Linked DNA regions of Homo sapiens: region 1 is linked to region 2. The links come from fine-mapping of genetic effects on plasma protein levels. Region 2 holds a variant in brackets. A gene starts in the other region. All regions are shown on their forward strands.

Region 1 (4,532 bases), not on the chromosome of region 2:
TGTGAGCCCTTGAGGCAACCAACGTTGGGCAAGGACACTAAGAAAAGAGGTTAGGGACCAAAGGGTTGGGTGGGTGGTTGTGCAACTTCATACCTTTGAGCAGAGTACTGTCCACAGCCATGGCGGTCACACGTCCGGATCTCATTGGAAGACTTGCCAGCACATATATTAGCCCATGGCCCTGCCAGTGCTAAAAAGGAGAAAAGTGAGAGCAGAGCTCCTGGCCTCAGACATTTCCTATCCCCATTTGCCTTATCAGTCACACAGTTGATCCTGACAATTCTGTTTTCACTGTAGTTTTCCCTGGACTTTATGTATTTATGGGAAGATCGTCCTTCCAGAATTTTATTTCCTGATTCAGATGTAAAATTGGCTTTTTCCCTGGCCACAGAATTCTGCTTTGTGACGTTAGAGTATCAGTGAATACAATTTTTTTTTTTTTTGGATCGGAGTCTCACTCTGTTGCCAAGCTGGAGCACAGTGGCGTGATCTCAGCTGACTTCAACCTCCATCTCCTGGGTTCAAGTGATTCTCCTTCCCCAGCCGCCTGAGTAGCTGGGACTACAGGTGCGCACCACCACACCCAGCTAATTTTTGTATTTTTAGTAGAGACGGAGTTTCACCATGTTGGTCAGGACGGTCTTGATCTCTTGACCTCGTGATCTGCCTGCCTCAGCCTCCCAAAGTGCAGGGATTACAGGCGTGAGCCACTGCGCCCAGCTGAATGTGTTTCTTTATAAGCATTGGCCTCCATCATTATACTTTGCTTCAGATCCATTAGTAAATGGTATAAGTTGTGCTTTTCTATTTTTCTTTGCTCATTATCTGCCATGGGGATCATTATTTTTAGATTAAGCAAAAATAATAAAATAGCATGGCTCAGAAAATAATTTTAGAAATTGTAATTTTGAAATGGTTAGTTCCACTAATCAAATCCAAGCAAATGTTTGAATTAAAGGAGAAACGAACTCTGTACTAGCCAAGTTTGTTTAACACTAGATAAATCTCTCATAGTTGCCAACATGGAAGAGGGAGATTCTTAAAAATAATCTGAAATGTCAAACCAATTTAGCCTAGACTGAGATTAGGGGTGAAGGTAGGAGAAGGAGTAGAACCAATTATATGAAAAATTATGAAACGTGGAGGAGGGGCTGCTTTCTCAGCAGACTTGGTGCAAACTTTGTTTCAGGCACAATTTGTTTCTTTACTATAGTAAGCACTTAATAAATGTTCAATGGAATTAAATGTCCTGGATTTCCAGTGTTAACATTCACAGAGAGATACAGTGAGCACACTCAACCTTGCACTTTGAAACAAACAAGCAAAAGCGAGAGCCTGGTAATTTGACTATTGATTTTATTTAAAGACATTTTACTCTTCATTAATACCTATCCTGTGAAGAGAACCTACAGAATATGGCCATTAAGCCTCTTCTTTAAAATACTTTTAAAAGGTGGGTTTCAAAAGTTTTATGCCTTGGAGCCAAGCTCCAAATCAACACCTTGATCAAGATATAATCCCATCACTTTGGCAACTAATATTTATCCTTGGGAATTGAGGCAAATATCAGACAGTGTAGTAATTTATTCACTTTTTCCTCCTTCGGTGAGTATTAAGGGAGCCATCCCTTTGTCTTAATCCATACCAGTCTCTGTATTAGTATCTGTATCAGAATTTGATTTTGATCAAAATCAGAATCAAATATTTATATCAACTTTTTATTATCTAGTTTTGTTCTAGTTAAGTCCCAGACCCAGACTCAGACTGAAAGGCTTTGTAATGTCTTCTCAACCCACTATTATGTTTCCCTCATTAAAGAACCGGAACATTCCATTTAAATTACTTAAAACATCCTCAGGACCATGTGTCATTCCTATTTCATTTTTAATAGCCAAATACACAAGTCTTTGTTGTGATCATGCTATTAATGACTTTTTAATCTTTTTAGTCTTCCCCTGAAATCAGTTTTTAAAAGTTAATCAATATTCTAAAATTGCACTTTCGACTTACCGGTAGAAATCAGACCAGCCAAAAGGAGGGCTTTGGTGGAAAACATCTGGTTTTACTTCCTTTAGTTTCTTCCTCTGATTAGAGTTGCCCCCACACTCTCTTTGAAGAATATTCAAGTTTGAATGAATACTTCCTAGCTATTTAGCCTTAGAATTCTGCATCTCTCATTTCTTTAGTGTGAGACACAAAAAGTTTAAGAGGATGGAGCAAGTCAAGTTCTAATATTCCATGGATAGCTATTTGATTTGCAGGTAGGGCCTATGTAAAAGCCTTTGATCTGAAGAAGAAGCCAATTATATTGGAAATACTGACTAAATATTAACAGAAAATGATAAGGCTAGGTGCATATCGACAGTCTTCTGGGCTGTGGCTTGTAGGAGAATGTTCGTGCGAATGATGGAATATTTAGTGCTGCCTGCTGGTAGATCTTTCTTTTATTTCCTTGATAGCACATATTTCAGAAGAAAATTGGTCATTAATAATGTGTAGCCCTTCATAACATATTCCTTAATATATCCCTTAGGTGTTTTTGAATTCTCAGTTTAATTATATTTCACCTGTGTAATATTTGCAAATAACTTTAATATTTTAATAAAATTGCATGTATTCACCTTAAATATGTGATTTTTAAATGTTTTCTTGTTTATGATAATGGTAAGTTAACACCATTAAAAGCATCCATCAATAAAGGAAAAAAGATTAATTATAATATAGTCATTGATATGGTTTGGATCTGTGTCCCCACCCAAATCTCATGTTCAATTGTAATCCCCAGTGTTGGAGGTGGGGCCTGGTGAGAGGTGATTGAATTATGGGGCTAGAGTGCTCATGAATGGGTTGGCATCATCCCCTTAGTGCTGTTGTCCTGATAGTGAGTGAGTGAGTTATGGTGAGATCCGGTTGTTTAAAAGTGTGTAGCACCTCCCCTGTTCTCACTTCCTCCTGCTTCAGCCGTGTAAGACATGCCTGCTTGCCCTTTGCCTTCCGCCATGATTTTCAGTTTCCTGAGACGTCCCAAGAAGCTACCATGCTTTCTGTACCTCTTTTCTTTATAAATTACCCAATCTCAGGTATTTCTTTATAGCAATGCAAGAACAGAATAATACAGTCATACAACAGAGTAAAATATAACAATTTAAATGAAGACAATCTACATGTATTAACACAGCTAGATCTCTAGATATACTGTTGAATTAAAAAGCTATTTTTAGAATTATATATATAGTATCATACTATTTATAATATGTAAAATCTGAAAACAAGTATATTAATCTTAATGAATGCTGTATGTATAATAAAAATATGCACAGACTACCTTTAAGGTACTAATTACTTCTGGATAGTGAGAGAAATAAAACCGTGGAAGGATATACAGAGTACATAAACTCTAAAATATTTTATTTCTAAAAAAAGAAAAAAATCAGAAGCAAATATGTTAAAATATTAATTTGTTAATTATTGGAGATAGACACATGGATGTTATGTTACCCTGTACTTTTCTGGGGAATTAAATTTTCAGTGTGTTTCAAATATATGTTAGCAGCTCCTTTTTAGCTTAATATTAGATGAGCACCTGGAATTTTCTATGGAAGCTTCCCCATTTAAATTATGTGCCAGTAGCTGTGGGAGATTGGGATTGTAGCCCCAGTTCTTCACCCTCTCTGCATCCACACCTTTGCCATGTTTCATGGGGGCAAAGGGAACTTTCCTCACCCTTGATTTTGGGTTTAGCTGTGTAGCTTTGACCACTAAGATGAGGCAGAAGTGGCAGTGGGTCGGGAAAGCCTGGGTCTTCTGGGGCCTTAGTCTTTGCACACTCCTTCCTGTGTTTCTACATCGCCGTGAGGCAGATGATCCTGCTGCCCTGGGAAGGGAATGGATGCCATGCAGAGCACAGTTGCCCCTACAAAATCCAGCTTAGTATACCCTATGAATGTATGGGCTTAACTGGCTGTCATTGGAAGCCACTGAGTTTTGGTGTGGTATGTCACACAACAATAACTAAACGATGCCAATGAGATTATGCACCTAATTGTTTTTGCTTCACACACAACCTTTCAAGGAGGCATCTAATGTATACAATATAGAATGCCAACGCATTGAATACATCAAGGATCTGAGTCAATGTACTGAAAGAATAGGTTAGTGAAACAAAACAGATGATTCAGAAATAGGCACAAATATATACAGCATGTAGTATACAATAGAAGTCATACTTTAAATGATTAGAGGAAATATAAGTCATTCTATTAACTGTATTGAGACAACAACTGGCAAGAAATAAAAGTGCAGTCTAGGCGTGGTGGCTCATGCATGTAATCCTAGCACTTTGTGAGGCCTGTGCGGGAGGATCACTTGAGGCCAGGAGATCGAGACGAGCCTAGGCAACATAGCAAAACCCCATTCCTACAAAACATTTTTAAAACTTAGTCAGGCATGGTGTGTGTGTACGCAGTCCTAGCTACTTGGGAGGCTGAGGCAGAAGGAATATTTGAATCCAGGAGTTTGAAGTTACAGTGAGC
Region 2 (4,000 bases):
ACAGAATGGCTTACAGTGCCCTTTAGTGCCTTTGACCATGCTGTGTCCTCTTCTGGGAATGCTCCCTCCTCTTCCCTGACTCTCTGCACAGCCTTTCAGACTCAGCTTAGGGGTCACCCCTTCCAGGAGCCTTCCTCAAGCCTCAGGCTGTGTTAATGCCTTATCTGTTTGTTTACTTCCCACTGGAGTCTTTACTACATTGGATTTTCACTTTCCTGGCTTCCCACTCAACCGTGAGCTTCCTGAAGCAGGAACTGTGTCCCTCTGTGTCTATCTTTGGTGCCCAGCACAGTCCCCAGCACTGTCTAAACAAATGAGGGCCACTCGATGGTGAGGTAGGACTCTTACCACAGGTGATTCTGCTCCCCGAGTTGCTAAACTTGTAGCTCAGAAATTTGGTGCCACATCCACGTTTCTCCAGACGTTTGTAGCAACAGTCATGAGTGACACAGCAGCTGTGAGGAGACACCCTGTTGGGGCTCTTGTCCCACAGCTCCAGGAGGCCTGGTGCCTGTGGTCTCACCCCCTTGGACCCTGGGCAGAGACCCAGTGACTTTGCAACAGTCTAGAGCAGAAGTTCCAACATGCCGGCTGCTTTTCCAGCCAGGCCATCCTGAGACCTCTGCGCCCATCAGGAACCGGCACTGTCTTTGCAGCTCCCAGCCCTGCCTGGGCCAGAGTCTAGGAGGGTAGGGAGGGATAGGTGGCCTCACCGATCCGTTGCATCCTTGGGGGATCCTCTGCCACCCACGCCACAGTGGCAGCCGTAGAAGCCATAACTGAGTGCGGCTTCCTTTCCTGTCGTCAACTTGATCATTCTGTGGAAATTCACCAAATTCCCATGGGCCTGCAGTAGGCCTGGAAGGAAATTTGGGAGTTGTCTGGTGATGGGGCATGGGGTTCTGCGCCCTCCCTCTCTGCCCCTCTCTGCTACTCTCCTTCCTCCCAAATGGCTTCTTTTTTCCCCCTGAGAGAGGATCACTGCAATGGGAGAGAAAACTAAGGGACAAGAGTGCTTCCCTTCTGGGGCTGTCCCCCCATGCTCAGAGGTCAGGGTCAGCTCTTACCAAAGATCATGATCACTGCCAACAGTAGGAGGGTCTTCATGGTAAGAGTTCTTGGGTGACAAATGCAGATGGACTGGCCTAGCTCCTCTGCTGGGTGGTCTCAACTTCTGCCCCGGCCGTCGCTCCCCTGCTCCTCCTTGGTGGCTCTGAGACACACAGACATGCTCTCCCATCCAACCTAAGTCCAGGGTGACTTCCTCTGTCACACTCAGAGCACACAAGGAGTGCCCTCCAGCAATGCACACACACACACACACACACACACACAACCACCTCCTGACCCGTTCCCAGCTCTGCAGAATGGTTTCACACACATCAGGCCCTCAGACCTGTGGAGAACCCCATGATACACTAATGAGACCTCCCCTGTACCTCATCAGACTGAGAGTTCTTGGGAGGTTGGAACCAGGTTCCTCCCAACTACCTGGGAGGTTCCTGAGGTCAGAGGATGTGTCCCTCGCTAGACATAGCTTGCATATCCCCACACTGGATTCAAGGCTTGGAGTCTCCAAGGCACCCATGGAGGCTCGGCCTCAGTATTTTCCTCCAGAATGAAAGCATCAACCTCTCTCTTCTAGGCCTTCTAACCCCTTCCACATACACAAGTTCCCAAACACATACATGTTAACACACCTATGCCCACATACACACACTCTCGTACTTACCTGATAGTGCCAACATCCTCTCTTACACTACACTCACATACTCACTCAACACACTCATGCACACACACCCTCTCATACATATCAAATCATGCACATGCATGCACAACACAGCCACTCTCAAAGGCAGCGAATGAGCAGGAATTCTGCTCTTGACAGGACATCAGCTTCGCTGGCTCTTTACCTCTCAGAGGACTCCAGAGTTGTATCCCCAGGCCGTCTTGTTTGTTCTGCACTCCTGCTCCCCTTAAATAGCT[G/C]CTCCCTCTGGGAGGTTGGGGGTAGGTGAGGCACAAGGCTGGGGATGGGCGTGGTCAGTTGGTGGACTCAGGATTGGTCGCCCATACCCCTAGGTAATCCCTTTCCTTCCCCTCATCAGCTGGCAGGACAGAGTTGAGGATTGGGAAACCTTACGTGTCAGTAGCTGATGCCAAAACACATTTCAGGCAGTTTTGCAGTCTTTCCATGGAGTAAATTCCCATAACCAGCTCTGGGTGTGATCAACGGTCAGCCACCTCCCTGCAATCGCCTCTAAGGGGGGCAGAGACTGTCTGCTGTTGCAGGCTGTGGACTCATTTGCACACCCAAAGGGACTACCAATTGCTGAGCAAGGATTGCTCCCTTCTGCTCAATGTGGCATTTGGGAATAGAAAAGAGGGCTTTTAGTGGTACTCATTCATTCAGCCGCTCAATCATTCATTCACAGGAAGTATGTCCTGGGCCTCTACCATGTTCCAGCACCTGTGCAGGCCTCACGTGTGCACCCCACAGTCCACCAGGGAGAGAGTTTAATGGGGGTGGATTTCCCTTCCCACTAACTTGGGCCAGGGCCTCAACTTTCTCTTCTTATTCTTCTTTCTTCTTTTCCTCCACCCCTGTCTCATATGAGCTTCTAAACCTGGAAAAAGCCAGAGGCTATCCTTGAAGTTCCCACCAAAGCACTGCCTTCACTTTATTCCCCATCCTCACCTGTTTGGAGACAGGGCAGGTGAATGCTCCCTGGATCTGTTGCTCTTTTTCCTTCAGCCTTCGGGCTGACACTGACTCCAGCTTTAATTCATAAAGTAAATATCTTTTTCATTGCTCTCCAGCACATGCTAAGAATTTAGCTTCCACCGCCTTAAGTAAACACTCTGCGATACCAGTCCTAAAAAAGTCACTGTGGCAGGGGCTGTGGTGCTTGTGAACATTCCATCTGTTCCCTACACTCTAGAGCCCCTTGCAGGGATGGAGACCTAGGGCCCTGCTGCTGACTGGTAAAACATGAGCACTGGTATGAAGGGTCACTTCCAGGTTTCTCCAGCAAGGGGACTATGAGATGCAACTCCCCAGCCCTTCCCTGCCCCACTGGTAGAACCAGAAGATGAAAGCAATCTGGGGTGTAAGAATCATGGCACGGAAGACAGTTGTCCTAGAAAGTCCTGCAGCTCACAGGGGTCTTAGTGTGAGTGAGAAATAGACTTTTGTTGTATTAAGCTGATGATAATTGAGATGGGCAGTTGCTGGAGCATAACCTAATCTATCCCAAGAGCCATCAAACAGCTTTCCTCTCGAGAATACCATTTACCTCCAGTGCTCGACTGTGTAAGGGGTTGGACTGTGGTCCTCCTTCCTGCTCTCAGTTCCTGTGTTGGAGTCCCGGTACCTTAGAATGTGATCTTATTTAAAAATAGGGTCATTGCAGATATAATTAGTTAAGAGGAGATCACTAGGGCAGCTAGGATGGGCCCTAATCCAAGATGACAGATGTCATTACAAAAATGGGAAATTTGGAGACAGGCAGGCACACTGGGAGAAGGCCATACAAAGATGAAGGCAGAGATCAGGGTGAAGCTTCTACAAGCCAAGGAATGGCAAAGATTACCAGAAAACACTGGAAGCTAGGAGAGAGGGATGGAGCAGATTCTCCCTCACAGCCCTCAGAAGGAATCAACCCTGTTGGGCCCTTTGATTTCTGCCACTGGAACTGTTAGACAATAAAATGTCTGTTGTGTAAGCCACAAAGTACCTAATACAAAGCCGAAGCAAACTAACACAACCTCCAGGGATCTCTGTTGGCTTCCTTCACTCTTCTTATTCTGGGTTGCCAGTCCTATAGCAGTTGGCTTTATGGCCACGTCAGGGTTCAGAGGTCTCAACCCCCCGGGGTAGACCACTGCCTTTGTTAAACATTGCACTTTCGGAAACAGTAGTTCCTCCAATAGGCAGAACCGCCTCCCTCTCTGTATATCTGGATAGCCCTGGTCCAGGCTTCAGTTGAAAGAAATACTCCAA

Which allele goes with the higher level. Positions count from the first base shown, and alleles are read on the strand shown. Strength reflects both the effect of a copy and how common the allele is.
In carriers of allele G in region 2, the plasma level of the protein whose gene starts at base 2,206 in region 1 tends to be lower than with C alone (weak association).

What was found. PIP is the chance, under the fine-mapping model, that this variant and not a neighbour inherited with it causes the effect. Protein levels are from antibody-based Olink assays in UK Biobank. Linkage for the fine-mapping came from a reference panel and not from the study's own genotypes, which makes the PIPs less certain.
Region 1: it holds the start of LECT2, and the variant in region 2 is fine-mapped to the plasma level of the LECT2 protein (UK Biobank, PIP 0.90).

What each region holds. Positions count from the first base shown.
Region 1 is chr5:135,952,778-135,957,309 of GRCh38, forward strand. It overlaps LECT2 (leukocyte cell derived chemotaxin 2), which reads right to left and starts at 2,206. Exons shown (of 4, transcript NM_002302.3): 1 at 2,011-2,206; 2 at 94-190. The coding sequence starts at 2,056.
Region 2 is chr1:19,977,667-19,981,666 of GRCh38, forward strand. It overlaps PLA2G2A (phospholipase A2 group IIA), which reads right to left and starts at 1,952. Exons shown (of 5, transcript NM_001395463.1): 1 at 1,914-1,952; 2 at 1,068-1,213; 3 at 714-858; 4 at 349-455. The coding sequence starts at 1,107. RefSeq lists an enhancer at 596-1,095. The variant G/C (reference allele first, on the strand shown) is at 1,987.